Linked DNA regions of Homo sapiens: region 2 is linked to region 1. Evidence: fine-mapped expression QTL. A gene starts in region 1. The other region holds a variant in brackets. All regions are shown on one strand. Distances are between the middles of the regions. Region 1 holds the start of LINC02402 (long intergenic non-protein coding RNA 2402). Region 2 overlaps LINC02402 (long intergenic non-protein coding RNA 2402).

Region 1 (16,408 bases):
GATTTTTCTAACTTAAGCTCATAATATGTTAATGGTATGCAGCGAGATTGGGAGCTTTTTGAAGGGCAGAGATAATGTCTTATTTATCTTGAGTATCTTGCACTAGGCTCAGCTTCTAGCATAAAACAGCTTTTCAATTAATGTTTGTGGTAGCCAGGGAGATCAGAAATCTCAACAGGATGCCTCTAAATAATCTTTAGAGTACTCATGTAGAGTTCAGTGGTATAGAGCTTTAGAGCTGGAGGCTATCTATAGACCCTCCTCATTTTACAAATAGGGCAGTGATAGTTCACTCAAGAGGCAAGCAGCGACCTAGGACTCAGGCCTCCTGCCTCTCAGTCCTATGTTCTTTTGACTCCCTCAAGGTGGTTTGTGTAATTAAAAAAACCCTCAAAACTCACACTACCCAATGCTGCATGACCCTTTATGAATTATAGTATAAAGCAGTATTTCATGTAATATTTGCATCAGTGAAAAATGCAGAGACATTGAGCTAGAAAGTGATTTAAGGAGGATGTTCTGCCTCCACATAGAATGTGTTCCATTTCTGAATTTTTGCATCCATTGTGTGCCTTTCTAATTCTTGGCTTAGCTTGGAAGCTGCAGTTAAAAAATGCTGGGTGAGAAGCTATTCTCCTGGTACTTTCAACTTTATTGGAAAGAGAAGGTCTCATAAATCACATAAGGGAACTGGGGCCTGTAGGATTGCTTAGTTGCCAAGTGAATTCTGATTGATTGCTTTGGAAAATATGTACATTTTCCAGGAGCTTATCTGAAATAAAATAAAGATTCATACTTTCTCAGACTGAGCTCCCACTCCACCAGATTTCAATCATAGTCTGGTCATTTTAATCCAGTGAAAGGGCAGTTAAATGAACAGTGTAAGCATTAGAAGTGTAGTAAAAAATCTGAACAGCAAAGCACAAATGTTATTTCAAATAGAGAAAGGTTTGGAACACCAAAAATACTCCTAACTAAACATAAAATTAGAACCAGATTCAGGTTCTATGACTCGTGTTGACTTAAGCTTCTTCCTAATAATGGCCAGCATATCAGAGTGGAGAAATTGTTGGGAAAACCATGTTATCAGACGCAGGTATCACTTCCGTATCAGGAAGCACTGTGAATTAGGATTTCAGGAGAACTGAAATTGTGTGTGTCCACAGAGAGCGAAATTAAATGGGAGGAAAACATTTGGATCTTAATCCTTTGAGGTCACAGAAACTGTTGAAAATCTATGAAAGCTGTGTAAAAATTCACATGCATATGAAAACTTTCAGACCCACGATGCCCATAGGGTGCTGGGAACCTACATTAAGTACCTCTTATTTAACTATTTTTCCTAGAATTTCTGGTTTCTATATGTGGCAGATCTGCCTGGCTGGCACCTGGAACTTCCAGCCTCTTCACACACATACACTGTAGGGCCAGGTTGTAGCAAAAAAAAAAAAAAAAAACAGAAAAGGAAAAAAGAGGACAGAACATCTGCTGTGAGGCTGATTCAGTTTTACTCAGGGTGAACAGAAGTGGCCTTAATCCCCTACAGATTTCCTTTACTTTGTTGTTATGCAGAGGGATCATCTGGCAGAGATTTTAAATTTTCTGAGCATTTATTTATACTTTCATTTGTAGTACGTCTGAAAGGAAAATGCAAACTTTTAATTGGACTGACTTGGTAACTTGGTTCAGTGATAGGCTGGGTTCAAAATTGCTCCATCCCCGTTTATCAGATGATTACAGTTTAGGTGGGTAGCAAATTCTGCTTTATCTTGGAGATACACAGTTTAAGAGATTTTCTAGTCTTCATTCATTACCATTTCTTCTGAATTCATCTCTGGTGAACTAAGGAAGACTTCTTGCTGTATGATTAGCCTACTGAACATGATGATGCATTCCTGAACAGACATGGGAAAGGCAGGTGGATAATAATAGTCTACAGCACTTTTTGTTTATCCAGAAATCTGCCATCCCCAGGAGGTTGACATATAATCCCATACTTAATCTGTCATCCATACTTTATGTAATAATAATAATAATGATAATGATAATCATTTACACTTATATAGCCACTTTCATCTAGGGTATCTTAGAGCTTTACAAACACTAATTAATTCTCCTGGTCTCCCTGTGAACTAGGTAAGGCCCGTTTTACAGGTGAGGCATTTGAGGCACAGAAAGGACGAATGGCTTTCTCAAGGCCCTTGGGTACTGAATGACAGAGAGCTCTGTACTTCCAGTTGTCTAGAGCCAGCTGCATCTTCTGGGTGAGTGAGTGGGAGGGACCACACCAGAATAAGGCCTTCTAAGACTTGGTTACCTAAACCCTAGTAGTGCATAGAAGCTCTGGGAGAGTTTCCAAAGTATGTGCTTTTTCATCCCCAGCACACACATGCACAGCCTGTGAGTGGTTGTTTTTGAGGTCTAAGCAGTAGAGGTGGAGTTAAAGTTGGCTGTCATATATCTTTGGATAGGAAGGAAAGGAAAGAACGTGGGCAGAGAATTGCATTTTAAGTGGATGTTGCTGAGATGTATCAGCCTACTCTACACTGAATCAGAGTAATCCTGACTTTTGACTTGTTTTATTCTGTTCCACTACATGAACCATTTGATATGTACATAACAAGGATGCAATGATTAAAGAGAGTCCAGTATGCAATTGGCAAGGCACCTAATGGAAACTAGCTTCTCACTGTTTCCAGGCATTTTAGTTTTAGAGAATCCTTGAAATTCTCCCAAATGGGTGGTGCTGAATTCAGGGAAAATGATGTTTAATGAGTGCTTCTCTCTCTCTTTAATTGCAAGAAGAAATAGACAAATGAGGGCTTATCAAATGTTAATATGCATACCAGTCACCTAGGGATCTGTTAAAATACAGATTGTTGCTTAGTAATTCTGGAGTGGGGCCCAAGATCATGCTTCCAGTTGATGCCCATGATAATGGTCCCTATAGCTTGCTCTGAATAGTGAGACTCTACGCTACTGTTTACAATTCCGATGAGCTTATTCCCACAACATACTGCTCTGGAGGAAGCTTCGGTCAATTGGAGTGAGGCCTGGGCTTACAGGACCAAGGCCTGGTTTGGAAAAGTGCTTCTGCTCTTTATTATCTAAGAGGTTTGAGACCCCAAACCTTTCAGAGCCTCAGTTTTCATATCTTTAAATGAAGATCATTAATTGCTCCTTTGCAGATTTGTTATGCAGATGAATAAAATAACCCAGGTGAAAGAGTCTGGCACGTGCTGGCTGGGTGCGGCGGCTCACGCCTGTAATCCTAGCACTTTGGGAGGCTGAGGTGGGCCGATAACTTAAGGTCAGGAGTTTGAAACCATCCTGGCCAACATGGTGAAACCCCGTCTCTACTAAAAATGCAAAAAAACTTAGCCAAGCATGGTGGCACACGCCTGTAATCCCAGCTACTTCGGAGGCTGAGGCAGGAGAATCGCTGGAACCCGGAAGGCGGAGGTTGCAGTGAGCCGACGTCATGCCACTGCACTCCAGCCTGGGCAGCAAGAGTGAGACTCCGTCTCAAAAAAAAAAAAAAAAAAAAAAAAGTTTGGCACATGCTATAACTCCACAAATGTTGATTCATTCTCTGGGCTCCCCAACTTACCCTGTCTGGTTACGTTCTCTAACAAATACTTTATAGTTTTCCTTCTGTATCTGCTGTAATTAATAACTATATTTTATCTATCTTGGCTTTTTCCTATTATTTTACCTCTGGATTCTTTCTCTTAAACATGTATAAGCCAGCATCAAATGTTAATATGTCTCTCAATATCAAAATGCTTTCCTTGAGCTAATTTCTTGTCTTGTTAACTATTATAAACTTACCTCTGCCTTCCTGGGTTCTAATTTGATCTAGGCCATGCAACACAAGTGAGACTGTATGGTATTCATTTAGTAAACAAATATTTATTAAGCACCTACTATGCTATGTTCTGATGCCCTGGGTATACATACCACTGAGAATAAGATAGAGACTTTTTGTTTTCCATATTGTTTTTGTTGCCTCTGTTTAACTGTTTGAGCAATAGCGAAGTCTTTCTTTAATTCTCCATTTATTGATGAAGACTTTCTCTCATTTTCTTCTAGTTCCATTTTTGTCTTTTCCTCTTGCCCACACTTATCCTTTAGATCTTTTCCCTCTGAATCCATCAGACTGACAAGAAAATTCTTTCCTAAAAAGTCTTTACAAAACTCATATTGTGTGAAATGGTTTTAATTTTTAATAAAAAGCAACAGTGAAAGTTAAGTATTGTATACGCATGGGAACAAATGTCTGGAATAACACATACCTCACTGTTAACACTGGAACTGGTGAGAGGAAACTTTCACCTTTATCTTTATGTACTTTGGCATTTTGGGGAAAAAAACTCTCCCCCTTACAGTCAGCAAATTGTATTCTGTAACACAGAAAAGAAAATGAGAAAAAGTATGGGCCAGGCATGGTGGCTCATGCCTGTAATCCTAGCACTTTGGGAGGCTGAGGTGGGCAGATCACCTGAGGTCAGGAGTTTGAGACCAGCCTGGCCAACATGGTGAAACCCCATCTCTACTAAAAAGAAGAAAAAAATACAAAAATTAGCTGGGCGTGGTGGCATGTGCCTGTAATCCCAGCTACTCAGGAGGCTGAGGCAGGAGAACTGCTTGAACCTGGGAGGTGGAGGTTGCAGTGAGCCGAGATTGCACCACTGTACTCCACGCTGGGCAACAGAGGGAGACTCCGTCTAAGAAAAAAAAAAAGTATAGATTGATGGACGACAAAAGGAAGGTTGAAGAAAAATGAAATGAAACTTACAATCTTCAAATTTGCCCACATTCCCACCTGTAGTTTTATGTCTCAATTGCTGAGTCTGTTATTTAGGTTTCAAATCACTGGTTTGGAACCCCGTCTTCCTGGGATTATGCAGTGTCAAGAACACTGTTGACATGAAAGCAATACTAATAGTAAAACAAGAGGAGGCATTTTTACAAGACACAGCACTACCCAGATGGATTTTGATAAGGTTGGTATGTACCCCAAGAGGTCATAATTAACCACATCAAAGAAGGAGTGGCTTCTTAAGCAAATGGACTTTATCTTGCCATCTGCCAAAAAATGTACCAAATGCTCTTACTTTGTTAAAAAATATCTGCACTTTTGGAACCAAGTCTTCGTAGCTTTGAACTGACAAACGTGATTGAAGAAATACTTTTATTACTTACACATTTGACCTCTCATTCTTTATTTGGCACCTTGCTTCTCTTATGTCCTCCTCGCTTGGACACATCATCTACAATTTACATAAATGAGAAAGTACTGGGTCATGGCTTAATTGGGAACAGAGAGGAGTTATCTGATAAAAACAGAGCAGGAAGAATTTAATTTCCCTAGCTCATGGTCAATTTTCATCCTACCAGCTGGCATGCTGGATTAAGTAGTTGTTAGAGAATTGAATTTAGCAAATCTAACGTAGGCAAAACTGCGTTAGAATTTATGTAGGACTCAACCTGGTTTCTGATTAGAATCCTCTGAAGAGGTTTTTGCAGATTAAGCTTGATTTAATTGGCTAACTTTGGAATTAATAAAAACAACAACCAAGGCCGGGCGCGGTGGCTCACACCTGTAATCCCAGCACTTTGGGAGGCCGAGGCGGGCGGATCACGAGGTCAGGAGATCGAGACCATCCCGGCTAAAACGGTGAAACCCCGTCTCTACTAAAAATACAAAAAATTAGCCGGGCGTAGTGGCGGGCGCCTGTAGTCCCAGCTACTTGGGAGGCTGAGGCAGGAGAATGGCGTGAACCCGGGAGGCGGAGCTTGCAGTGAGCCGAGATCCCGCCACTGCACTCCAGCCTGGGTGACAGAGCGAGACTCCGTCTCAAAAAAAAAAAAATAAAAAAAAAAACAACAACCAAACAAAACAACAAGCACAAAACACCTCTCCAGGTATCTCTAACGTGTAGCCAGGAGAGCTACTTCTGGGACTGAGCCAGCCTTATACGAGGTCTTTGGACTACACAGCTTTTAATTAGAGACCACATGGTTCTCTTAAGGAATAATAGATACTCTTCAAATTTATTCTTTCCTGTGATTTTTAGTTTCAGGTACATTTGAAAAATAATCATAGGTGTAAATGAATAGATTGGAATGGCCCAAGAATGTACTGAACATTTACAATTGTGTTTCAGCCTTGGTACTTTTACTTTATGTATATAAAACTCTAATATTATATTTCTCTGTAATTAATACTTATTTCTTAAATGTTATTTAATGAAGTAGTTCACCTTTATTTCTGCAATGATTATTAAATTATCAATCTTTTTCAAATGCAGAATAAAAATTTGCCTACCCTTGACTGTAAGTTTCTGGCTAGCACTGGAGTTTCTTTCACTGGAGGCATCTTCCTTAGATTCTTTGCCTGCCTCTTCTTTTTGGTGGTGCCATACTAGTTAGACACACCTCTACTGTTTCTCTTAGATTTAATAAAGGTGTTGGAGGCTATTCTTGCTGTTTTGTGGTTTTTATTCTATTTCTTCATTTCCAATATTACTTGGGGATATCTTTTTGTCTATGCTGTTCCCTATTCCACCCCTTTCCAGGGAGTTCTGGGCACAGCATTTTAGAATGTACAGAGATAAACCAGAATGTGCCTCATCATGCATAATCCACATGCCAAAGGACCTGCAAACCATGTTGGGTGATGAACATTTGAAGGAAATGAAGGCAATTGCCCAAAGAAATTATGATGTGAAATTATATGGTAAATGATAACTTCCTTAATATATTTTTCTTCCTTAATAAAAAGAATTGTCCTTTTTAATTATAGAAAACCCAGATCCTCCAAGGCCCTAACCCTGTTCCTTGATATGCAACTTTCTTTAGGTCAGGGATGATACTCATCATTCACCAGTGTTGCCACTTCCTCTGTTGTATTCATGATTGATAGGAGTACTAATTGATCAAAGCATTCTTTCCTGCTTGAATCTGGATGTGGCTTCAGGCAGCCACTACTAATTGATTGGTATTGGTGTTAAAAATGACATTATGTGTAATTCCTACCTTAAAGGTCTCTTGCTAATTACTGCTGCCAGGAGGATAATTCTGCCCTTTAACACCAAGGGGGCTTCATGATCTATATTTAAATAAGTCTCCTGCCATAATACCCAGATAACAGTTGAGACAAAACTAGAATATTTATTAAGACTGTAATTAAGTGTAAGTCACTAACAAAGTGGAAATAGAATAATATAAACTAGATAATCTTGCCTGTTCTTCCCTAATCCATCGTTAGCCTGGGATCCTCTAGCAGGATACCTCTTTGTATATCTCCTGGTTTTCCTCCATGAGGAAGAGAGAATTTTAAACTCCTAATCCTTTGGAATATTTCAGAATCTTCAGGACTTAAAAATTCAGATCCAAGAAAATGAAGTCCCAAGAGAGAGGAATTGTTCTATTTGTTGCTTTCTGAATTCTAGGTGAATTGCCTGATATTACTGAGGACTGGCAACAGAATGTTCATATGACATGTCTTTAAGAGAGACCACACTTAACTACAATTCTACTATGACCTCAAAATCCCAACATTCCTTCAGCAGAGCCACACTCTTAAAGATTATAAATGTTGTCTTCAAATAATTGAATATTTGAAGGTGTAAGTTTATTGCATATTTCTTCCAAGGGTCAGCTAGATCAGTGGGTAGAAATCAGAGGGGGGCCAGACCTGAGTTTAACAGAAGGTTATGTTTTCTACTAATAAGACATGCCCTAATGTTATTAAGCTGCCTTATGTTTTAGTGCTCCTAGTCATTGGAAAGATTTAGACAGTCTGGATTGCCCTGTGCCAGAGATAGAGTTGAGTGGACTCCCTTAGCAGATGGAAAATTGAACTTAATCTCCCTTCCCTTATCAAAGAATCAGGAGATAAGAAGATTCAAATATTCAGTTATTTGAAGACAATATTTATCAAAGAATCGAAGACAACATTTATCAAAGAATCGGGAGATTCTTTGATAAGTTAGGTATAGCTACCCTACACGGTACAGCAGGAGTATTTATAAGGAGGTAATCTATAAACCATTTGAACTTTTCTATCCTGACAGTTGCTGGCCAATGCAGGACTGATTATAAGTAATGATGACACATCTGTAACTTCTAAATGGGAAGGTCTTCGAATGGGATTGAAAAGACAAAGTGATGAAAAAATAATTGTGATAATACATACTGTTCCAGGTTTTAAGTGAGTACAACATAGCTGCATTATAATATAAAATTGTACAACTTAAAAATACACATATATGCAATCTATAATTACAAGTTTATGTGTACAACCTAGTCTATTTCTAAAAGAATTGTTCACATAATTTTGATCTTAAAATTGTAAGATGGAATATTATGTAACTAACATAACACTGCTACGGAAAATATATAATGTTGTGGGGAAATATTCACACACTACTGAAGAAAAGCAGATCATAAAAATAACATGAAGAATGATTCTACTTTTGATGGGGAAAAAGTATACATTTATGTTTTTAAATATAGATTAAAGGTGCTTTTAATTTTGTAAGAAAAAGAAGACTGGAAGGATGTACCTCAAAAAGTTAATAATGGATATTATAGGGGAGTAGAATTAAGGGTGACTTTTGTTTCTATTTTAAATGTTTTCTAAAATTTCCAAAGTTCTTAAAATAAGCAGACATTACCTTAGTGTTATCTTAGTTTTATATTTCTGCTGTAACAAATTATTACAAACTTCATAGTTTAAAAAACATGAATGTATTATCTTATGGTAAGATAATGTATTATCTTATAGGTTAAGAGTCCAATGCAAATTTCACTGGGTTAAAATAAAGGTGTTTATTGGGTAAAATCAAGTGCTGCATTCCTTTCTGGAGGCATTAGGGGTAAATCACTTTCCTCACCTTTTTCAGTTTGTAGAGGCTGCCTGCATTTCTTGGCTCATGGCCCCCTTCCTTCGTCTTTGAAGGCTGCGAAGTTGCATCTCTCTGACCATTCTTTCATAGACATATCTCCTCTGATGGGCTTCAACTAGAAAATGTTTTCTGCTTTTGGCATTCTCTTGATTAGTTTGAGTTTACCTAAATAATCCAAGATAATCTCCACATCTCAAGCCCTGTATCCTTAATCACACTTGTGAAGTCCCTTTTGCCAAGTAAGGCAACACAGTCACAGGATTCGGGGATTATGACATGAATATTTTTGGTGGGGGAATGCATTATTCTGCTTACCACATGTGGTCGGGAAAAGAAAACATTTGTAAAAATGTGTTGAATCCCTACTGAACTCATTCTTTCCAATAGAAACGAAGTCATACATGAGGCCATTCTCCAGGCTAGTCATCAGAGCCTATGTGACCCATGATAGAGGGGATTTTACTTTTTCAGTAAACTTGTTCAAATGGTCCTGTTAGTGCTCTTACACATCAGTACCTGAAAGAATGAACAATAACAAGTTCAAATGGTTTATAGATTACCTCTTTACAAATATACCTATGGTACTGTGTAGATTCACTATATGTAACTTATCAAAGATTCTCCCTCTGAAAGGGAGATTTAGCTCAATTTTCCATCTAAGAAGGGAGTCCATTCAACTCCATCTCTGGCACAGGGCAATCCAGACTTTGTCTAAATCTTCCCAGTGACTGGGAGCACTCTATAACATAAGGCAGCTTACTAACATTAGGGCATGTCTTATTAGTAGAAAACATATCCTTCTGTTAAACACACATCCGGCCCCACTCTAATTTCTACCCACTGGTCTAGCTGACTGTATCAGGAGAATGTATTCAGAGTTCCCAAGTGGATGCCAGGAACATAACCCTACCCTTTTTTTTCTCAGCCTCTGCTTTACTCTCTTCTTTCTCCCTTATACTTATTTTTGCCTCTCCCGTCTCCTCATATGTTCGGGAATACTGAGTGGAGATTCCGTTTTCAGTCTTTAGGTGGTGATCCCCATGGCCTGTGGCATGAGTTCAAGCAGGATGGGGGTAGGAAGTGAGGAACAGCTGAGGAATTAGATGAGTTTGAGAGAAGGTAGTTGTGGGACCTCTTTTTTGGTGTAAATCTCCGAAGGTATCCTGGGAGGCTCCCGTTTCTCTCCTTCAGTTTTCCCAGTGGCCCAAGTGATTGATTCACCTGCTTCTTTTTACCTATCGCCACTAGTGTCACTGAAGGCTTCTGTTACATTAAAAGAAAATCCTTAGCTAAATTAAATTTAATGGAGTTTATTTGAGCAAAGAACGATTCGCCAATTGGGCAGCCTCCAGAGCCCAGGTAGGCTCAGAGACTCCAGTGCACAGCCACGTGGTGGAAGATTTATGGATGGAAAAAGGAAAGTGACATATGGAAAATGGAAGTGAGGTACAGAAACAGCCAGATTGGTTACAGCTTGGCATTTGCCTTATTTGAACAAGGTTTGAACAGTTGGTTTCCTTTGATTGGCCAAAACTTGGTGATTGGCACAAGAGGAGGCTATAGTCTGTTGACACATCCAGTTAAGTTACAGTTCGCTATGAACAGAGAAACCTTTATGCAGAACTTAAAATATGTAGGGAGGCACCTTTAGGCTACACTTGACTTAACAGTTCTTACTTGCTCACCATGGAACAAAACAGTTGTTCATACAAACCAGAGCCCTTCTGGAGTTTTCTGAGGGCTTTTCTATCCAGCAACTGGGGACAGAAAACTCTCACATGCTCCCTTCTACTTATCTTGTGTTCGGGTTATGTAGCTCCAGGTGCTAGGGAAGGAGCGTTGCACGGAAGGGCTGCCTTAGAAGCTGGGGCATGGGGAAAGGCCGGCAAGAGGCTCCGCTGTTGGGCCAGGCAGTGGCAGGTGTGAGGGAGAAAGTCTGCTTTCCCTCTGTGGGGTGAGCTTTCCTCCAGCCTAGGCCAGCACAATCCCAGTCCCAGGTGGGTGGATCCCAATAAACAGAGCAAGTCTGTCTCCTTACAGTGTTCCAAAGATGGCGAGTGTATTGTTTTCTCATGTTCTGAGCTAGCTCTGTAGTTAGTTGAGGAAGTGTCTGGAGAAGGCTTTTCAAGGACAAGCCTCAAGTTGTCCTCTTTTTTGGCATTTAGGGGGAACATTGCCCCTGACTGGGAACTAGGGCTTGCCTCCTGATGATTGCAAGCCAGAAATAAAATCCTAAACCCTCCAACTGACTGAACTGAACAGACCCCCTCTTGGCTGAGGGAACCCCAGAGAAACCCAAAAAACGAAATTCCAGGCCATGCCAGGAAGGGAGGCTGAACACACCTTGTTGTACTCTTTTGGGGTTTAGGTTAAAATAGAGGTCACAAGACTGGCAAAACAGAATCTTTGTGGCAATGGGATACCAAATTACAAAGAAGACCTAAGGCCATGCAAGGCAGGGGTTAAGTCACATCCTACAAACCATAAAATCTGCCCTCCCCCACTTTTTTCTGAGGCAGTCTCCCTTTGTCACCAGGAGTGCAGTGGCATGATGACAGCTCACTGCAGCCTTGACTGCCTGGGCTCCAGGGATCCTCCCTTTTCAGCCTCCTGAGTAGCTGTGACTACAGGTGTGCACCACCATGCCAGGCTAATTTCGTATTTTTTGTGAAGTCAGGGTTTTGCCATGTTGCCCAGGCTGGTCTCAAACTCCTGAGCTCAAGTGATCTGCGCACTAAGTGCTATGATTACAGGTGTAAGCCACTACACCTGGCTTTGTATTGATTTATTAATTGGTCTACAATTCCCATCTCCCTAACATGTATATAACCAAACTGTAACCTGACCACCTTGGACACACTTTCTCAGGACCTCTTGAGACTGTTCCCTGGGCCATGGTCACTCATACAAGTTCACAGTAAGCCTCTTTAAAATATTTTAAAGTTTGGTCTTTCCATTAACACGATGATGAGGAGGATGACAAGTAGCTGCCATGTGCGAGTGCTTACCATGTTTTAGACTGTGCTGAGTGCCTACCTGAATCTAGTTAGATCTTCATGATGATAGTATGACATAAGAACTATTTTATCATTATTATGTGTCAGTGATTTCAAAATAACACAGAAAACATATAACGCTATACACTAAGTTAATGATATATGTAAGCCATGCAAAAAATATTGAGAATAAAATACACTGAATAAAGCACTGAAGTCATACAAAGGGCTTAGCTATGGTTGTGCTAAGCCTTGGAAAAACAGGTGGAATAAAATCCAGAGTCCTCTCTCCCTCTTTCCCCCAATTTACTCTCTTTGGATGGACCACACTGCAGCCGCTCTGGTGCTCTTTCTATCCCTAAAACACACCCAGCCTATTAGAGGCCAAATAGTGCCCTTTCAGTCCCCTAAAGTCATATGCCCAAGTCCTAAGCCCCAGTACCTCAGAATGTGACTGTAGTTGGAGATGGGGCCTCTACAGAGACAGTTAAGGTAAAATGAGGTCATTGGGGTGGGCCCTAATCCAATATGACGTATACTCAATACGACCATGATATTATGATGTATATATTTTGGGTTTTGTCCATGATTCCGGGTTCTCAGCTCCTGTAAGCCTTGCTGTTTCCTAAGTGACTAGAGCAATAAGAATATCTTTTGTTAAATTATTTGGCCTTTTGTCCTGGGTTCTTGAAACACCCTAGAAACAGCTTCAGAGAAGTGAGGGAGAAAGATGTTTTTTTGTTATTCGTAACAAAGCCTTTTCAACCACATCTGAGCTGGTGTGAATGAGGTGATTTTTGGAAACTCAGGGTGGGCAAATGATGGGGTGCTCATTGCCAGGGGAGAACTAGCCATGTGGTCAGCCCCACACTCCAACCACCCAACAACCAGGGAGGGGAGAGAGGCTGAGGTTTAAGTTGATTACCAATGACTGATTGATTTAATTAGTCATATCTGTGTAACAAAGCTTTCATTAAAACCCCAAAAGAACTGGGTTGGAAGAGCTTGTGGATAGCTGAGCATGCGAGAGTTTCCAGGAAGATGAACAAGAAGACATCCACGAGCTGGGAGGGTGGTGCACCCCAGCTCCACCCGGACAGAAGCTCCTGGGCTCATGACCCTTCCAGATCTTGCCCTATGCCTCTCTTCATCTGGCTGTTTATTTGTATCCTTTAAAATATCCTGTGTAATAAACCAAGTAAGTGTTTCCCTGAGTTCTGTGACCTGCTCTAGCAGCTCGTGGGAGCCCTGGTTTATACTTGGTGAGTCAGAAGCACGGGCAAAATAACCTGGGGCTTGCAATTGTTGTCAGAAGTGGAGGGCAGTCTTGTGCAGCTGAGTCCTCAACCTTTGTGATCTGATGCCCTCTCCAGGTAGATATTGTCAGAATTGAGTTGAATTGGAGGACACCCCGCTGTTGTCCTCTGTGCAATCACTTGCTTGCCGATGGGAGAAATCCCCACACATCTGGTGTCACAGGCGTGTTGTGAGAGTATAGAGGAAAATGGTTTGCTTTTCCACCTATAGACACATACAGAGGGAAAATGAGGTGAAGACACAAGGAAAAGACAACCATCTATGAGCCAAGGAGAGAGGCCTTAAAAGAAATCAACCCTGGCATCTTGATCTTGGACTTCAAGCCTCCAGAATGGTGAGAAGATTAATTCTGTTGTTTAAGTCGCCCTGTCTGTGGTGTTTGTTATAGTAGCCCTAGCAAAATAATACAAAGCCTTTTTCTGTGCTAGGAACTTTGTGCTTTGCATTTTCTGGTTGGAAATCTTTGTTCCCATGCTCAGTTCAAATATTCCCCCCTCACAGAGGCTGTCCCCACCTGTCAACTGAAATTACTGCCCCCACTCCCAACAGTCAACCTCTTACCAGCAACCCCCAGCACAGGAGTCTGTTCTGTATTTTTTATACTTCTATTAGCACCTGATATTATTTACTTGTGTTACTGTTTATTTTCTCTTCCCTGATCCCTTCTAGAATGTAAGCGCCTTAAAGGTAGCCTCTAGTTCATTTTTATGAAATAAACTGCTGTCAGTTCAGAGCCAGGGTCTGGTGATTAAAAAAAAAAAGAAGAGGAAATAACCTTATTATTATTATTTTTTTATTATACTTTAAGTTTTAGGGTACACGTGCACAATGTGCAGTTTATTACATATGTACACATGTGCCATGTTGGTGCGCTGCACCCATTAACTCTTCAATTAACATTAGGTATATCTCCTAATGCTATCCCTCCACCTTCCCCCCACCACACAACAGGCCCCGGTGTGTGATGTTCCCCTTCCTGTGTCCATGTGTTCTCCTTGTTTAATTCCCACTTATGAGTGAGAACATGCAGTGTTTGGTTTTTTTGTTTTTTTTGTTTGTTTGTTTGTTTGTTTTTGAGACGGAGTCTCGCTCTGTCGCCCAGGCCGGACTGCGGACTGCAGTGGCGCAATCTCGGCTCACTGCAAGCTCCGCTTCCCGGGTTCACGCCATTCTCCTGCCTCAGCCTCCCGAGTAGCTGGGACTACAGGCGCCCGCCACCGTGCCCGGCTAAGTTTTTGTATTTTTAGTAGAGACGGGGTTTCACCTTGTTAGCCAGGATGGTCTCGATCTCCTGACCTCATGTTCCACCCGCCTCGGCCTCCCAAAGTGCTGGGATTACAGGCGTGAGCCACCGCGCCCGGCCCAGTGTTTGTTTTTTTGTCCTTGCGATAGTTTGCTGAGGATGATGGTTTCCAGCTTCATCTATGTCCCTACAAAGGACATGAACTCATCATTTTTTATGGCTGCATAGTATTCCATGGTGTATATGTGCCACATTTTCTTAATCCAGTCTATCATTGTTGGACATTTGGGTTGGTTCCAAGTCTTTGCTATTGTGAATAGTGCCACAATAAACATACGTGTGCATGTTTCTTTATAGCAGCATGATTTATAATCCTTTGGGTATATACCCAGTAATGGGATGGCTGGGTCAAATGGTATTTCTAGTTCTAGATCCCTGAGGAATCGCCACACTGACTTCCACAATGCTTGAACTAGTTTACAGTCCCACCAACAGTGTAAAAGTGTTCCAATTTCTCCACATCCTCTCCAGCCCCTGTTGTTTCTTGACTTTTTAATGATTGCCATTCTAACTGGTGTGAGATGGTATCTCATTGTGGTTTTGATCTGCATTTCTCTGATGACCAGTGATGATGAGCATTTTTTCATGTGTCTTTTGGCTGCATAAATGTCTTCTTTTGAGAAGTGTCTGTTCATATCCTTTGCCCACTTTTTGATGGGGTTGTTTGTTTTTTTCTTGTAAATTTGTTTGAGTTCATTGTAGATTCTGGATATTAGCCCTTTGTCAGATGAGTAGATTGCAAAAATTCTCTCCCATTCTATAGGTTGCCTGTTCACTCTGATGGTAGTTTCTTTTGCTATGCAGAAGCTCTTTAGTTTACTGAGATCCCATTTGTCAATTTTGGCTTTTGTTGCCATTGCTTTTGGTGTTTAAGACATGAAGTCCTTGCCTATGCCTATGTCCTGAATGGTATTGCCTAGGTTTTCTTCTAGGGTTTTTATGGTTTTAGGTCTAACATTTAAGTCTTTAATCCATCTTGAATTAATTTTTGTATAAGATGTGAGGAAGGGATCCAGTTTCAGCTTTCTACATATGGCTAGCCAGTTTTCTCAACACCATTTATTAAATAGGAAATCCTTTCCCCATTGCTTGTTTTTGTCAGGTTTGTCAGAGATCAGATAGTTGTAGATATGCAGCATTATTTCTGAGGGCTGTGTTCTGTTACAATGATCTATATCTCTGTTTTGGTACCAGTACCATGTTGTTTTGGTTACTGTAGCCTTGTAGTATAGTTTGAAGTCAGGTAGCGTGATGCCTCCAGCTTTGTTCTTTTGGCTTAGGATTGACTTGGCAATGCAGGCTCTTTTTTGGTTCCATATGAACTTTAAAGTAGTTTTTTCCAATTCTGTGAAGAGAGTCATTGGTAGCTTGATGCGGATGGCATTGAATCTATAAATTCCCTTGGGCAGTATGGCCACTTTCACGATATTGATTCTTCCTTCCCATGAGCATGGAATGTTCTTCCATTTGTTTGTATCCTCTTTTATTTCATTGAGCAGTGTTTTGTAGTTCTCCTTGAAGAGGTCCTTCACATCCCTTGTAAGTTGGATTCCTATGTATTTTATTCTCTTTGAAGCAATTGTGAATGGGAGTTCACTCATGATTTGGCTCTCTGTTTGTCTGTTATTGGTGTATAAGAATGCTTGTGATTTTTGTACATTGATTTTGTATCCTGAGACTTTGCTGAAGTTGCCTATCAGTTTAAGGAGATTTTGGGCTGAGATGATGGGGTTTTCTAGATACACAATCACGTCATCTGCAAACAGGGACAATTTGACTTCCTCTTTTCCTACTTGAATACCCTTTATTTCTTTCTCCTGCCTGATTGCCCTGGCCAGAACTTCCAACACTATGTTGAATAGGAGTGGTGAGAGAGG
Region 2 (16,408 bases), 37 kb before region 1:
TTCTGAATAGATAATATATGCATAAGTTTCAAAATTCAAGAGGTAAAATGTGTATATGGTGAAAAGTCTCCCTCTCACCTTTTCTCCTAACTACCCAGTCTTTCTCCCCAGGCACTGTACTTTCTAGATGCCAAGATAAGGTAGGAAATATGACTAGTTGCAAAGCCCTCAAAGATCAAGGTTTATCACAAAAGAAAGGCTTTAAATTTCTTTTTTCAAAAAAATTCTTAAAAGGGAGAATTTAAGCTCTTAAGAAATTTGTCAAAAGGATGCCTATACAAAGGATCTGGAGTAAAATAACGAAGAATAAACTCAGGAGTTGCTACAGACAATGTGGGGGATTTTCTCATTTCTGAGCTCTTCATCTCTTAAAGAATTTAAATAAATACTTAATTGAATTCCCCAAATTCTACCCCATTAAGAAATGCAGAGGACAGACTTTGACCTGGAGTATTTTGAGGAAAGAGATTACCCAAATTCCTATTTACTTCTTCTCTAGAGAAGTCTTAATTTAACTCCTGAATCATGTTTGATTTTGAATACACAAAAGTCACAGCCTGACTTTTGTTCCAGGATAATTCAGCTCAGAAATGAAGTCCTATATATCTGAGTGGGGGAAATCTTTTAAATAAAATCGTTTAGTGTTATCCATTTATATGTGACAGTGTATCTGACAAAGGAGTTGCGTTTGACATAATTACTATTTAGCTGTCCTTCTAGGCTATAATTGGTCAACGGGTTCAACTGCTTTTAGAGGCCACTCCTGAAATGTGAAAGTGGTGTCGTATAATCAGTATGTAGAAAGGATCCTGATCCTCTGTTGGCCAAAGTAGGCACCTTGGATTTGGAGCTGGTACCAAACAGTTCAGGTACCAGTTAATACCGGGGGGAGGGGGCGGTTATGGTCAACTCCCTTACGTGGCACTACCAATGATGTTACTGTTGGTCAGAAAGCGAATCCTGTGCTGGCTCTGATTCTCAGACTAGTAGGAAAATAAATGTTGTGAAGGAGCATTAAAAGCCTTGGATCAATGCACATCGCATGATGTAGCCATAAATCATGACCTGTAGAATAAAGAACTGACATCAGATCAATAATTGCCAGAAAAATTAAATTTTTCATTACTTGAAACAGAAAAGTAATGGTTGAGTGGTTAAACCTAAAACCTTCCTTCACTTCAGGTGACTGGGAGACCCAGCTCTGTAATTTGTTGAAGAGAAAGCAGCTGGCATAGAATTTTGAGGGAATGAGATAAGTTAAACTGGGTAGATCTTATTTCTATTTTTAGTAGTCTTTGAGTCCATCAGTTAATGGAGATACAGATTTCTTCAGGGCCTGTCAATTACAGTAGAGGTTAGAGAGCCCCAGTGACAATTCTTCCTTGGGGGTCCTCCTCTGCTTAAGACATCTCTTAGGGAGAATTTTGGAGTCTGCAAAACAAGAGGTCCTGTCCCAAAGCTGCCACAGCAGAGACAAACATTGACAGGGATCTGTGATTCACGGTTCCTCCCACTGCAGTCCTGCTGGGAGCAACAAAGCCCCAGCCACCATGTACAGCCTAAGGGACAGGTGTCCCACTGAGGCCAGGAGTACCCTCCTCCCCGCTCCCTCCACCCTCTATGCATGCACACATTGTAGTTTTTTCAGAAGTTCCCCCAAATTACTTTCTTGCTAATCTGCCTGTCTTTTCTTGTCTCCCTAGCAGTTCCTTCCCAGACATAGGACAGAAAAGAAGGGTGGGATTCCCCACTGGAAAGCTGTTTCCACATTTAATTGATCTGTAATTCATAGTGGCCCCAGCTCTGAAGCCCACTCTGGCCTTAACCCATCGTTCAGCCAGATACTTAATGACCTGTAAACAACACAACAGCTGTTCACAGGGGTCCATATAGTCAAAAGACCCCGAGGTGAATCTTTTGTAAGGCAAAGCATCTTTTTGTGTGTGATGCAGAATCCCTTCCTCTAATTTATCTGCTTTATAGGTTAGTGCACTCCAGGGCTCTCCAACCATAAACGTAACATTTGTAGTTAGAGTCATAGAAGAATGCTGATGAGATTTCCAGTTAAATTCAGACAAAATGGGGTCCGATTTTCTCATGGTGGCAGAGTGGCTGTTAACATCCCATCCTTCACCTCTGTTTCACGTTAAAGATCAGTGCTTTAATTGTTCTAGCTAGCAAGGAACCAGATGCCCCTCCTCTTTAACAGAGAAACACACATTTCATTTGCCCAATTTTTCTTTGACCCCAAGAGAAGGGTAAGACCCTTTGTAGGGAAAGCACTAAATTCGGAGTGAGAGGCTTGGGGAGAAGGTGCCCTATAGCAGCCAAACAGAGGGAGAGCGCAAATGCCAGGTAGAGGCTACGATTGTCCAACTCGTTCATTAAACTTCTGAGAAGGCAATGTATGGTAGGAATGCTTTATCTCCATTAATGGAAGTATTATGCCACAAGGAGAAAAACATTGTATGAATAAACAAAGACAAATAGGCTGTTGTAAAAGGAGTAGTGTTTTGATAACTTCCATTTCTATTGTTTCTCTTGTACTGAAAAGACATATGTTCATCATAAAAATTTTGAAAAGTATAGAAAAATACAAAAAAAAAAATCCAAAAATACAAAGCCCCAGCCACCCTGTACAGCCTAAGGGACAAGCATCCCGCTGAGGCCAGAAATGCCCTCCTCCCTGCTCTCTCTACCCGCTATGCATGTCTTTTTTTCTGGGCATATATGCACTATAACAATTGATCACATTGGACAGGTGAAACTTGCTTTTCACTTAACATATAGTGAATATTTCCCATGCCATTTAATATTATTTTATAACCACAACTTTATGGCTATATGATACATTTTTAGGATATTAAAACAACTTTTAAAAATAAACATGCTGGGCTTCATACCTAGGTGATGAGTTGATAGGTACAATACACCACCATGACACACATTTACCTATGTAACAAACCTGTACATACTGTGCATGTACCCCAGAACTTAAAAAATAATCAATCAATCAATCAATAAACATTCTTTAGTAGTGATGAGCATACTTTAACTCTGTGCTCATCCATTATTTTCTTAGGATAAACTTGTAAAAAAATTTCTGTTTTCTAAAGCTGTATTTGTCTCAAGTGAAGGGGAAAAAGACTCACTAAGCCCTGTTTGCTAGTTATTAATACCAGGGGGCAGCATAGAATAGTATTTTAAAAGCCTGGGTCTGTAGTCAAACCATCCCCATTTAAACCCCACTTCTACCCTCTGGATGCTTGGTTTCCTCATCTGTATAATGAGGATAATAATGGTGCCTGTGCTCTAGGGTTGCTGGGTGATATAAATGAATTCATATAGAAACACACATCTGGGCCGGGCATGGTGGCTCACGCTTGTAATCCCAGCACTTTGGGAGGCCGAGGTGGGCGGATCACGAGGTCAGGAGATCGAGACCATCCCGGCTAACAAGGTGAAACCCCATCTCTACTAAAAATACAAAAAAATTAGCCAGGCGTGGTGGCAGGCGCCTGTAGTCTCAGCTACTCGGGAGGCTGAGGCAGGAGAATGGCGTGAACCCGGGAGGCGGAGCTTGCAGTGAGCCGAGATAGTGCCACTGCACTCCAGCCTGTGCGACACAGTGACTCCGTCTCAAAAAAAAAAAAAAAAGAAAAGAAAAGAAACACACACATCTGACTCATTATGATACTGCCTCCTTTTAATTCCACCAATGGCTCAGTTAGGTGGGCACTATTATGGCTATATCTGGAAGCACATGTGCAGAAATGAGAAGTAAATTACCCAGGGTGGCCAAACTCAGATGCCATGTGTCAGCTGCAAAATTCATTCTTTCCCCCATTATACTATAATTATTAATTTTATCTATGTGGAAACCCAATTTAGATACTGAGCTCTGGAAGTAAAGGTTTTCAACCTCACTTCAAATCTCTGCCTAAGTATAGCTGCCTCAAAAAGAAGTGACTGTCTGGCATACCACTGTAAGCCTCCTGGCTCTTGTCACAAACTTATCTTTTGAACTTACATTTTTATTGTCTGTCTTCCCCACTAGAATGTATGCTCTCTGAGAGGGAGTTGTGTTGTTTAAATGATTTAGCACCAAATCTGGCACCTGGAAAACTTGTGTCAAATAAATATATCTTATCATTCAATTATGTATATAGCCTAAAATGCCAGATCATTGTCAAATTATCTCTTTTTGTTTAAGCTATTAAGATTATCTACATGTATCAGATCACCTGGATAACTGACAACTTTTCCTTTCACTTTTTACTAAAAGCACCTTTGATTTTTTCATAAAGAGCATCAAATTATAAGTACATTGATAAATATATTGATAAAATCATAAGCTACAATAGGTATACAAAACACATGATTGTCAGTGGTGAATGTAGTGTTTTTCTCTTCTATCCAATTCTTTTCAGCAATCTTCTCCCGAAAGGAAAAGGACTCAAATATAAATACTTTCCTAGAAACCCTCTCATTTCCTGAAGCCCAGAGTTATACTTGCCCAGTACAGACTGTGTATACAGGGCAGGTTGGCTGACTGATCCATCTCACAACTGGATCATTCCATAGGCAATAGCAAGTACAATCAGACTTCAAACCCTTTGCTTTGCCTAATTTTCTTCATTGCTTTTTCTTCCTCTATCTCTTTCAGAATTCCCACTTATTCTTCAAGTGTTATGTGAATATCTATTCTCTGTAAAGCCTGCTCTTACTTCCCTTCTACCCTGGGAGAGAATTTGGCTCTGTTCATTGTACTTCTTTGGCACAATGTACGTAATGTGACTATGGCTCTGAGGACATTATATTGCATTTTAAAAAATTTGTGTTCTCATGTAGACTGAGATTCTTGAGGACAGGGATCATTGCTTACAATGTTGCATAGCATATTAGAGGTTCTGCTGAATGAATGAACTATATGTGTGAGTATGTGTACTTAGAGTTTGTTAAGTGAGTAACAGGAAGCTAGGGGAGATTTTAAGTAAGGGAGATTTTAAGTAAGTAACCAATGTATGGCTTAGGAGTACATGTTTGACTGTCCGTTACTCTACCCAAATCCTGGCATTCTGGCTTGTAGGCATGTGCTTAATTGCTAAAACTTACTCTTTCAATCTTAGACATTTCATTTGAAAAAATTTTGTTTCCTTGTTTGGTGCTTCTGTAGCCTGGCTCTTCTCTCCAAAGATTGTAATTTATTTACTTTTTTCCCTCAAATTTCCTTATACATTGGGTGATATTTTACCTTCTTATTGGTACTTCCACTGTCAGAAAACACTCATCTTTTTCAACACTGAAACCAGTTGACTATAGGAAGTGGGTGGAGAATGTCGTGCCACACACTGCTCAGTAGGGTTAGGAGCTACCATGCATGATTTCAAGTTTCAAGGGGATTCCAAGCAGCCAATGCATACTGTTTCTATCATTGTTTTTCCTTCATCCACTGAAAGCCTTAAGAGTAAGGTCTATGTCTTATTCATTGCCGTGTCCCCAGCGTCCATTAAAGTGTCTGGGATCTAGTAGATACTAGGAAAAAAAAGTATTTAATAACGAATGACTAACTGATCAAAGGAAGGAATGAGGCTTCTGAGCTGGAGAACATATTTGATTTTGAGTAACTCTGATACTCCCCAAAAGGGTGAAGGTGGCAGGAGCTGAAATCTTGTCAGTATTTAATAAGGCTCTGAGGCTCATATTACTGTCAGAGGCATTCGAACCAGAGCAACTCCATCTTGAATAGTGGCTGGGTAAAATGAGGCTGAGACCCACTGGGCTGCATTTCCCTGAGACAGGCATTCTTAGTCACAGGATGAGATAGGAGGTCGGCAGGAGATAAAGGTCACAAAGGCCTTGCTGATAAAACAGGTTGCATTAAAGAAGCCAGCCAAAACCCACCAAAACCAAGATGGAGATGACAGTGACCTCTAGTCGCCCTCACTGCTCATTACATGCTAATTATAATGCACTAGCATGTTAACGGACACTCCCACCAGCGCCATGGCAGTTTACAGATGCCATGGCAACATCTGGAAGTTACCTTGTAGAGTCTAAAAAGGGGAGGAACCCTCCATTCTGGGAATTTCCCTTTCCCAGAAAACTCATGAATAATCCACCCCTTGTTTAGCATGTAATCAAGAAATAGCTATAAGTGTCCTTAGTCCAGCAGCCCAAGCTCTGCTCTGCCTATGGAATAGCCATTCTTTTATTCCTTTACTTTCTTAATAAACTTTTTTTCACTTTATTCTGTGGATTCGCCTTGAATTCTTTCTTGCGTGAGATCAAGAATCCTCTCTTGGGGTGGTCTGGATCGGGACCCCTTTCTGGTAACACTACCATTAAAGAAAATGGTTCTGGAGCCTTTGGAGAACTCTTTGGCAAGAAGTCCGGTAAGTCCGTGAAGTTCATCTTTCCTCACAGGGAGTTTACCAACTTGAATGCATGTTTTGCATTACTGAGTTGACTGGAGATGTCATTTGCAGACTTTCGCTTTGGAGTTAAAGTCAACAACATCATTCTTGCATTTTAAATGAGCTCATGTTTGCCCTGTTCCCATCAATTCCTCTTTCTTCCTCTGCTGTTTTCCCGTTTAAGTTAAGGTTCTTTGCAGAGAAGAGGAGAGGCAGAGAGGGAGTTCTGCGGCTACTGCCACGTTTTCATGGAGGATGAGTGTTCCCTGGGACAGATGGGAAGGAAGGTGACACATCAGCGTTCCTGAGTCCTGGGAGTGGGCTGCAGTTATGTGGGAGATCTGGCAAACTTGCCCGAAGCTAAGCTCTTAACGCTGTTTGCTAGTTGCTGACTTCTTGTTAAATAGCTCTAATTGTAGACACTATTCCAAGATGAACTATGTTTTATATATATTAAATTGTACACTATTAGATTTCATGTTGGTCCCCAGAGATAGTTTTAGGCCGATCATGCCTTTAAACAAACAAACAAACAAACAAACAAACAACAACAACAACAACATACCCGGGAGGCTCTGCCTGGTTTCACAGCTGGGCCCTGGCCTGTGGGTTTCAGCCTGTGATGGACTCTTAGGTAAAATCGACCTGAGCTTCCAGCCTTGTGTTGCATGTTGTGCATCCTTCACTTTCGCAGACACTTTATTTTCTCAACATCCTATTGATATTTAGGAGACAGAGTAGCTGCAGTGATGTGTCACAGACACTCAGGAACTTTACAACACCCAGGA[C/T]GCTGGATTTCTGGTCTGGAAGATGGTGAGTAGTAGGAGCTGCCTTTACTGAGAGCCTGGCTTTAAATTGTTCTTTAGGCTAAAGGAACCACAGCCAAAAAAACAGATTGAGGTGGTGCTGCTTCTGCTGATGACACAGGCTTTCTGATGGCCCGAAGGAGCAGTTCTCTCTCCTGGGTCTGTGGGGCACAACTGAAGGAAATCACTCGCTACATCTCAATCAGACCTTTTCTTCTCACTCCTCTTCACTGACACAAATTCTCACAGAAAGTTTACAAAAAAAAAAAATTATCAGAGCGTTTAAGAAGCCTTACTCCATGTGAATTATAATTTAGTGGGATCATTTTCCAGCGGATTTCTGAGGAGAGAAAAAGGGTGCTTCTTTATAGGTCCCCAAGTTACACATTTAATCTTTCTATTATGTTGGGATTCTAGATGGTTTACACTTATTTAAGCTTCGTTGGTCACAATTTTTTTTTCTAATGGCTAAAATAATGCTGGTTTTTCACGTCCTGTCATCCCACCCCATTTCCTAGTTTAGTGTTCCCTGTTCAGTCACTCGGTGGTCACTATTATCCTGTATCTTCCCAGTATGTGACTACTCTCTCACCCTTTATTTTCAAAAACAAATTTTTATTTTTATTTTAGTAACAGGGTCTCGCTGTATCACCAGGCTGGAATGCAGTGGCGCAATCACGACTCACCGTAGCCTCGACCTCCTGGGCTCAAGGGATTCTCCTGCCTTGGCCTCCTGAGTAGCTGAGACTACAGGTGTACATTATGTTGCCCAGCTAATTCTGAATTTTTTTTGTAGAGACAAGGCTTTGCTATGTTGTCCAGGCTGGTCTTGAACTCCTCGCCTTAAGTGATTCTTTCTCCTTGGCCTCCCAAAGTGCTGGGATTACAGGTGTGAGCCACTGCACCCGGCATCACCCTTTCTTAATGGTGGGCTTCCAGCAGTGATATTGTGTCCGGAATTGGTGGGTCCTTGGTCTCACTGACTTCAAGAATGAAGCCGTAGACCCTCGCGGTGAGTGTTACAGTTCTTAAAGGCTGCATGTCCGGAGTTTTTTCCTTCTGATGTTCGAATGTGCTTGGAGTTTCTTCCCTCTGGTGGGTTCGTGGTCTCGCTGGCTCAGGAGTGAAGCTGCAGACCTTTGCGGTGAGTGTTACAGCTCTTAAGGCGGCACGTCTGGAGTTGTTCGTTCCTCCCTGTGGTTCGTGGTCGCACTGGCTTCAGGAGAGAAGCTGCAGACCTTCACAGTGAGTGTTACAGCTCATAAAGGCAGTGTGGACCCAAAGAGTGAGCAGCAGCAAGATTTACTGCAAATAGCTAAAGAACAAAGCTTCCACAGTGGGGAAGGCCACTGGCGGGGGTTGCCACTGCTGGCTCTGGCAGCCTGCTTTTATTCTCTTATCTGGCCCCACCCACATCCTGCTGATTGGTCCATTTTACAGAGAGCCCAGTGGTCTGTTTTGAGAGGGCACTGACTGGTGCGTTTACAATCCCTGAGCTAGACACAAAGGTTCTCCACGTCCCCACTAGATTAGCTAGATACAGAGTGTGGACACAAAGGTTCTCCAAGTCCTCACCAGAGTAGCTAGACACAGAGTGTCGATTGGTGCATTCACAAACCCTGAGCTAGACACAGGGTGCTGATTGGTGTGTTTACAAACCTTGAGCTAGATACAGAGTGCCGATTGGTGTATTTACAATCCCCTAGCTAGACATATAGGTTCTCCAAGTCCCCACCAGACTCAGGAGCCCAGCTGGCTTCACCCAGTGGATCCTGCACCAGGGCCGCAGGTGGAGCTGCCTGCCAGTCCTGCCCCGTGTGCTCGCACTCCTCAGCCCTTGGGTGGTCGATGGGACTGGGCACCGTGGAGCAGGGGCAGCACTCGTCAGGGAGGCTCTGGCCGCACGGTAGGGGCGGGGGGTGGGTTGGGGGGAAGGCTCAGGCATGGCGGGCTGCAGGTCCTGAGCCCACACCCACCCAGAACTCATGCTGGCCCACCAGCACCGCGCGCAGCCCCCGTTCTAGCCCGCGCCTCTCCCTCCACACCTCCCTGCAAGCTGAGGGAGCTGGCTCCTGCCCTTGCCAGCCCAGAAAGGGGCTCCCACAGTGCAGCAGCAGGCTGAAGGGCTCCTCAAGCGTGGCCAGAGTGGGAGCCCAGGCCGAGGAGGCCCCGAGAGTGAGCAAGGGCTGTGAGGGATGCCAGCACGCTGTCACCTCTCAGTATGGGAATCTGATCCTTCCCTCCCTGGCCACGGCTGATTAGGTCAACGGTGTGCACCTGGGCCAATTAGAACTTTTTTTTTTTCCCCTGGGTTTCTAAGGAAGCTCTGTCTCTCTGTGAGACTGAAACTTTGGAATTATGGGCAGCCATTTCATATTCACTGGGTGGACAAGTATCATCACATTAAGAAGGATGAAGTGAAGGGTTGTGAGGAGACATGGAGAAAGCTTTCACCCCTCTTCCCTCCCTGTTCTAGTCTTCCTGAGGCCTCGCTGTCTTCCTGTTCTTGGGTTATATGAATCACCTCTGTATCTTTATGATAAATCTCCTTCTCCTACCTTGTTTTTTTGGCTCTAGCAAGTGTGAAGTTTTCTTCTGTTGCTTCTAATCAAAAGAATCTTCACTAGTCTGCATTTGTCGAGTCAGTGTTGCAGTTGGCATTGTCACCACTCCAAGAAGCAGATGAAGATACAGAGGGGAAGAGGGAAAAGTGTAAACACACAGTTCCTCACCAAGCTGGGAAATGGGAGGTTTTCTTCTTTTTTTCTTTCACAGTCATAGACTCATTCCTTGAGGGGAAATTTGTGGCGTGTGCAAGAGGTGGGAGACCAGAGCCAAGGACTGCAAATAATAAAGAGCACGATGTAGCTACAATCAGGAAAGAAACAAGGATCTAAAAGGCAGAGTCAAAGTTGAAAGTTTCACATATGGGAATGGGCACCCAACAGAAAGATCTTGGTCTTCTTAGGCAGATAAAATGCTGAGTCTTGGGCCCCTCCCTAGGGATCTAAGGACTCAGGAATGATTTATTCTTGAAAGGCTGATTAAGATGTTTTGAAATTTGCATACTGGCATCTTTTTGCATACCAGGAAAACTAAGAGGACCTTGAAAGTGTTTTGATAATCACCACTCTCTTTTCCCCTTTTGACATGGATAATTCATATCCCATTTTCATGTGACTAATTCAAATATGATTATTATCCAAACAGAAATATTCTTGTACTTTCATTACTGGAAAATAACTTTCTGCTTGTCAGAGCCAAGTTGAGGAAAAGTCAGCATTGTCTGTTTCTCATAAAGCACATTCTTTCTCTGTCTCATGCCAAAATTCTGTCTCAGTTGGAAATAAAGTGGACAAATCTTCACTGTGGCTGATCTATAGCTTTATAAGAGAAGGAATATATTATGATTCTAACTCTGTCCTTGGGACTTGCTGTTCTGATTTCAGGTTACATGAGTAGAATATTTAAAAATCAGGGAGAGTACATATTCAGAATATGGGCATAAAATGGAAATGTTAGATAATTTTTTATTTTTGACATTAAAATGTTTTTCATAAATTAACATAAACAAAAATCACAGAATGGTTTTTACTTTTACTTAGGAAGAGCAAGGCAAATAAATGTTATTCACACATTGTATCAGGCAAAAATGCAAATGTTCTCCCCAACTAACACCATTAAAAATATTGCCTCTCACAAGTTTCTCCTGGCAAAAGTTAGTTTCAAATCTACAATTTAAATATTATGAGCCAGGCGAGGCACTGTGGCTCACGCGTATAATCCCAGAACTTTGGGAGGCTGAGGCAGGTGGATCACTTGAGGTCAGGAGTTTGAGACCAGCCTGGCCAACATGGTGAAACCTTGTCTCTACTGAAAATACAAAAAATTAGCTGGGCGTGATGGTGTATGCCTGTAATCCCAGCTACTCGGGAGACTGAGGCAAGAGAATCGCTTGAATCTGGGAGGCGGAGGTTGCAGTAAGCCGAGATTGCACCACTGCACTCCAGCCTGGGCAACAAAGCAAAACTCTGTCTCAAAAAAAAAAAATAAATAAATATTATCAGCCAGGTATGGTGGTGCATGCCTGTAGTCCCAGCTACTTGGGAGACTGAGGTGGGAGGCTGAGATGGAAGCTTGAGGCTGAGCCCAGGACTTCAAATCCAGCCTGGGCAATATAGCGAGACCCCATCTCTAAACCAATAATAACTATTATGTGCACAGGGGTGAAATACAGATGCTTCTTTCACTAATATAGGCTGCTCTGTCTTATGCTTTGTGTTAGTAGATGCATTTGAGTAGACCATATTCTGTTTTTATCTTCCTTCCCAACCTGAAATGAGCAAATGTTTCATGGGTTTTTCCTTCTCCTTTTGGTTTCCCCTCATTACACATTTTGCCAGATGGCCAAGGAGTTTCATCTGGAAAAGAATTTTCCATAATAATAGATCATTTGGTACTCACGGCCAATGATCCCACTTCCCCCTGCCATCTACAGGAACCATGGGATGGAGTAAAGTGGCAAATGAGTCATGCCTGGCAGAGCCTAGAGGAGGGGGAAAGACACAGCAAGCAAGGGGAGGCTTGGCTTGTCAAAGACCCGACCGAGAGTCCTAGGATAGTAAGAGCTGAGTGGTGTGTGTGTGTGTGTGTGTGTGTGTGTGTGTGGTGTGTGTGTGTGTGTGTGAGAGAGAGAGAGAGAGTGAACCTATGTACATCCTCAGGAGATACTGTGTGTGTAAGTATTTTGGAGTGTGTAGCTGCAGGTCATTCTGACAGATGCAGAACATGTGTGGCACAACTTTGTATGGCGAAGAGGAGGACTGGGGGAAGACAGGAACATCAATGTGCTGCAAAATGAGATGAGGCTGAGATCCTGGGTGTGTAAGCAAGGGCCTGGTCAAGGAAGCTGTAAAGAAGTGCAAGGGTAAAAGGAAAACTTCCTCTTTGTCCTCAGAAGGTTCAAATCACTCCACAAAAGGCAGGCTAATTGGAGAAAGAGTATGCTAATTTATCATTAATGTTTACATTGTAGATGGGAACACTTCAGAATGAAGACCCAACTCCCCACTGGGGTGCAGAAGCTTATATGCCATCTCAAGATGACAGAAAGAATGGGGACTTGGTGCATGGCCAAAAACAAGTTGTGATGGTAAATTGGGTTTTAGTGGCAAGACAGGTTATGGGAAGGAGAGAACAGGAGACTTGGCTAGCAAAAGTGATCTTATTATGTAAATGGAACCTCAGAGGTAGCAGTCCTCAGTGAGATTAAATGGTAAATTTCTCCCCCGCCCAGTCCTTTAAAGATGTCAGACTCTCAGTTAATGTTTGCTGGGTCTGGATGAGGGAGTGTCTGGCTGCATCAATGCAGATTTTCTACAGATGCAAATTTTCTCCACAAACCACAGGTTTGGAGGGTGCTACTTCATTTTGCTGGCTCTCTGGTAGCCATCTCAAAAATATGTCAAAGAAGTGTATTTTGAGGAAAAATATTTTTCTTTCCTTCAGACTCCACTTTGAAACGTTAAAAAATTTTCACATATTAAAAACCAAGTTGATCCCACTGGAGGGATTTGGGCTAGATGTTGCTAGACAAAGGAGTGGAGACAAATTGGGATAAACACAAAAGAACGACTTTAAATATATCAACCCATATCTTCTTTAATCAGCCTCTTAGCCCTGAGAATAGATCAGTTTAGTTAAATGGCTGTGTCCCATTCTAAGAGGTGGCATTGCAGATAGGATAGGCCTCTACATATGATGTAGGCAAACAGATCTTTAATAAGAGGCATTTCTATGGAAAAAGAAGAAAAAGGTTAATATCTGGAGTACTCTATAGACTAATTTTTCTAGAGTCTCTGAAGCATCTTCAAATTGCAATGGCAATCTGACAGATTTTTCTGGATTGTAGTTTGAATTAAGTGTTCAAGTAAACTTTCTGAGTAGTCCATACATCAGGAGGTGAGAAGATGATTTATAAAAGTTGCTTGGATTTCTCCTGAAGTTCATTTAAGTTGCTTAGCTTCAGTTTGCAAGGCTTTAAGAAAAGCACAGTTTTAGTGTCTAGTGATTCCAAGTCAGGAAAACGAAAGAAGCATTTGGAAATATTAGTTTGGAGACGTGTGGCCAGAAAAAAATTCAGAATTCAATCCAAAGTGTAGGCATATAATAAAAACTCAAAAATAATGGACACAGCTGGAATCTCATAACAGGTATACTCTAGTTTTCTTTTGGAACATAATTTTTATTTCTACGGTCCTCTATTTCTACCAAAGACAAATTACAGTAGGACAAATGTATTTTCAAGATAAGTTTTAGTCTTATTATACTTGGCCTGGTTATTTGCATAAAGTGCAGCAAGAATTGTGATTGGCTATATAGGCTTTTTTATTTTTATTTATTTTTCTTCTTCTTTTAGAGATGGGATTCTTACTATGTCATTCAGGCTGCATATAAACTCTTTTAAGACTGACTTTGCTGGAACTTTTTCATAAGGAATCTCAGATTAGACTTTTAAAAGCCTCAAGGCTAGAAGCCATGCCAAGGATTTGCCATCAGACTATTGCAATATCTGTATGAATTGGGTGAGTTCCTCTTTCCTCAAAGTGCTCAAATAATTTGAGGTTCCTGGGACTGTCAGAAAGTGACATTCCTTAGTTACCAAAGGTCAGGGAACTTGTAAAGGAACCTTGCAGACAACATACCAGACCAGCCTTTCCAAGAAGCTTTTTTTGAGCTTTATAAGTCAACCTTAATTCCTCAAAGCAGTCTGGTCATTATGGAAAATATGCCATTCCAGTTAAATGCTTTGTAAAGTAACCAGTATCTCCAATTGTGTCCTGTTAGAGAAACAAACAAACAAACATAAATACAACAGATCTTTATTGAATTTATGCAAATAACTATATTGCTATAAATTAAAAATATAGTTTCCAAATTCTGGAGAAATGAGTTAGAGAGAAATATAAAAGCTTCAGGTTTTGCTCACAAAATATACTTTACCCAATTTGTTGTAAGCTTGAATAGCTCAAAAGAAAAAGTTTTCTTGACCCTGGAAGACAAAACGTTAAAAAAAAAAGCAGTGTTTCAAACAAAAGAAATCATAAAACATCATTTTAGTCCTCTGTTAGTTCAGTCCCATGTAATTAATTCTTGTTTTGCCTGATGTTGGGCCAGCAATTCTCATGAATGCTGGAAGTTTTTATTTATTCCAATGGTATAATCTCTAAAGCTATCAGAAACCTGAATAAGAGTACTTGTCAGAGCCTTTTCCACACATTTTCTTAAAGAAGCAATTTTATACTGTAGCTGATTATAAACCACTTTTTGAGAAGAATCATAGTAAAACAATAATTGTCTGTGGATGACAAAAATCTTAGAATAACTATGGCTAATGACATTTGACAAGGACATTTGGTTATTTCTATGACATGCAATAATTTAACATAATAATCATAATTATTATTAACATATACTAAAATATATCAGAATTTTAGAAATCTCATAATTTTGGAATATATATTAATAATGCATTTACACAAATACAATGCAAAGAAAGTTAAACACCATTTCATATTTGACAATGCTTCCTGTATGATTTTAACATACTAAATAATCCTAATATAGCTCGTTTGAACTTCCAGGGGGCGTAATATAAATAAAGTTAGTCTGAGGTTAAAAAAACTGAGTTTAGAATTTGAAACGTTGATTTAGGAAAGTTTGTCAAATATCAAAAGTTTAAAACGCTTGCTCAAAATAGGATCACAGATCATTATAAAATAATAGTCATTAATTTAGCTAAGTGATAATGAAAACATTTTAAAAAGCAAAACATTTTACTCTTCAACAGAGAGGACACTCAGTTTCCCAATTATAAAACCTGACAAAAACACCATAAGGGAAACAAAAATCTGTCTCTCCCTCTCTCCCCTCTCTTTTTCTTGTAGTCTAATGAAAAGTTAAACAAAAATATTTTTCTGTCTCTTATTAATACTATACAAAAATCTTATTCAAAAAAGAAATCCAAATTCTACCTTTGTGTTAGTGTATAATTAATGTTCATGCTAATTTTAATAAAAACTTGTAAGCAAATATATCCAATCTCAATCAGTTTTAACCATAAGATTTTTATAAATATTTTATAACCTCTTACAATTTTTCTCATTTTTTCCAACTTTTTATATCCATTTAGTTTATCGATTTTTAAATTTCTTTAATATAATCCAACTTTTAAAAGCTAAAACCAACTTTTAGAAGCCAAGTAAATTTCGTTACTTTCCCTGTAACAAAAACCACATTCTCATGCCTTTTTATAACTTTTCTTTTCAACCAAAAGTCCTTCCTACTTTCTTTATATACTTTACATATGGAATTGTTTCTCTTATATCTAATAGTTTTAATTACATATATTAATTAAATGTTTACTCTTAATAATCCTTATTTTTTATGAAAAGCCTCAGCAGTAAGCAATTTTAATCATGTACGAGATGTAATGTCCAGGACAAAAAACAGAGCTGTGAAGACAATGCTTAGAGGATATAACCCCTCTCAGCATGGCCAAGAGGCACAGCTGAGCAAGGGAGGAAAGGGCCTAAGTGTTGTCCCCACACCCCACTATGGTCACTTATCTAGACTTCAGAATCTAAAGGCTCAAATCCAAAGATGTAAGCTCACAGACAAATTATTCAAGTATTAAAAATAACATAGAAGCAACAGTTTTATGACCTTAAAACATTTATCAGGACAGTATAAACCTGTCTGACCAATAGACCCAGGCAAAATTGTCTAAATTATATTCTAAAGATGTTTTTATTTACAATTTAACAAACTATTTGCCAAAGATTACTAAAATCATACGAACTTAAACAACATTTAAGCTTATTTACCTAATTTATGAGTGCTCATTTATTTATAAATCAATTTGGTACCATATAGATAGTATACAAACAGACAATACACATGAACACAGAAAACCATAGACAGACATCAATAAAGGCTTTATAGTTTTGATTTTAGAATTTTAGCCATGAGAATAGTAAAACTCACTAATTTAAAGGGACAGCGGGAGGAAAACTGTGCCTTTATAAATGGAAAACTTTAAGGTTTATCCTGAGAAACGCTTATTGAGTTTTAGAGAAAACCAGATAGCAATTTATATCTCAAAGCATATACATAGAGATAATTTAA

What was found. PIP is the estimated chance that this variant, and not a neighbour inherited with it, causes the effect.
Region 2: its variant is fine-mapped to the expression of LINC02402 in testis (GTEx, PIP above 0.99).

What each region holds. Positions count from the first base shown.
Region 1 is chr12:42,639,022-42,655,429 of GRCh38, forward strand. LINC02402 (long intergenic non-protein coding RNA 2402) reads right to left here and starts at 7,477. Exons shown (of 6, transcript NR_110042.1): 1 at 7,249-7,477; 2 at 5,206-5,273; 3 at 4,296-4,403. LINC02451 (long intergenic non-protein coding RNA 2451) reads left to right here and starts at 7,562. Exons shown (of 5, transcript NR_135027.1): 1 at 7,562-7,633; 2 at 8,082-8,218; 3 at 13,439-13,562.
Region 2 is chr12:42,601,902-42,618,309 of GRCh38, forward strand. It overlaps LINC02402 (long intergenic non-protein coding RNA 2402), which reads right to left. Exons shown (of 6, transcript NR_110042.1): 6 at 13,602-14,061. Among named protein-coding and RNA genes, the nearest start is that of PRICKLE1, 20 kb to the left of the region's middle. RefSeq lists enhancers at 1,267-1,767, 1,768-2,268 and a silencer at 9,712-9,912. The variant C/T (reference allele first, on the strand shown) is at 7,205.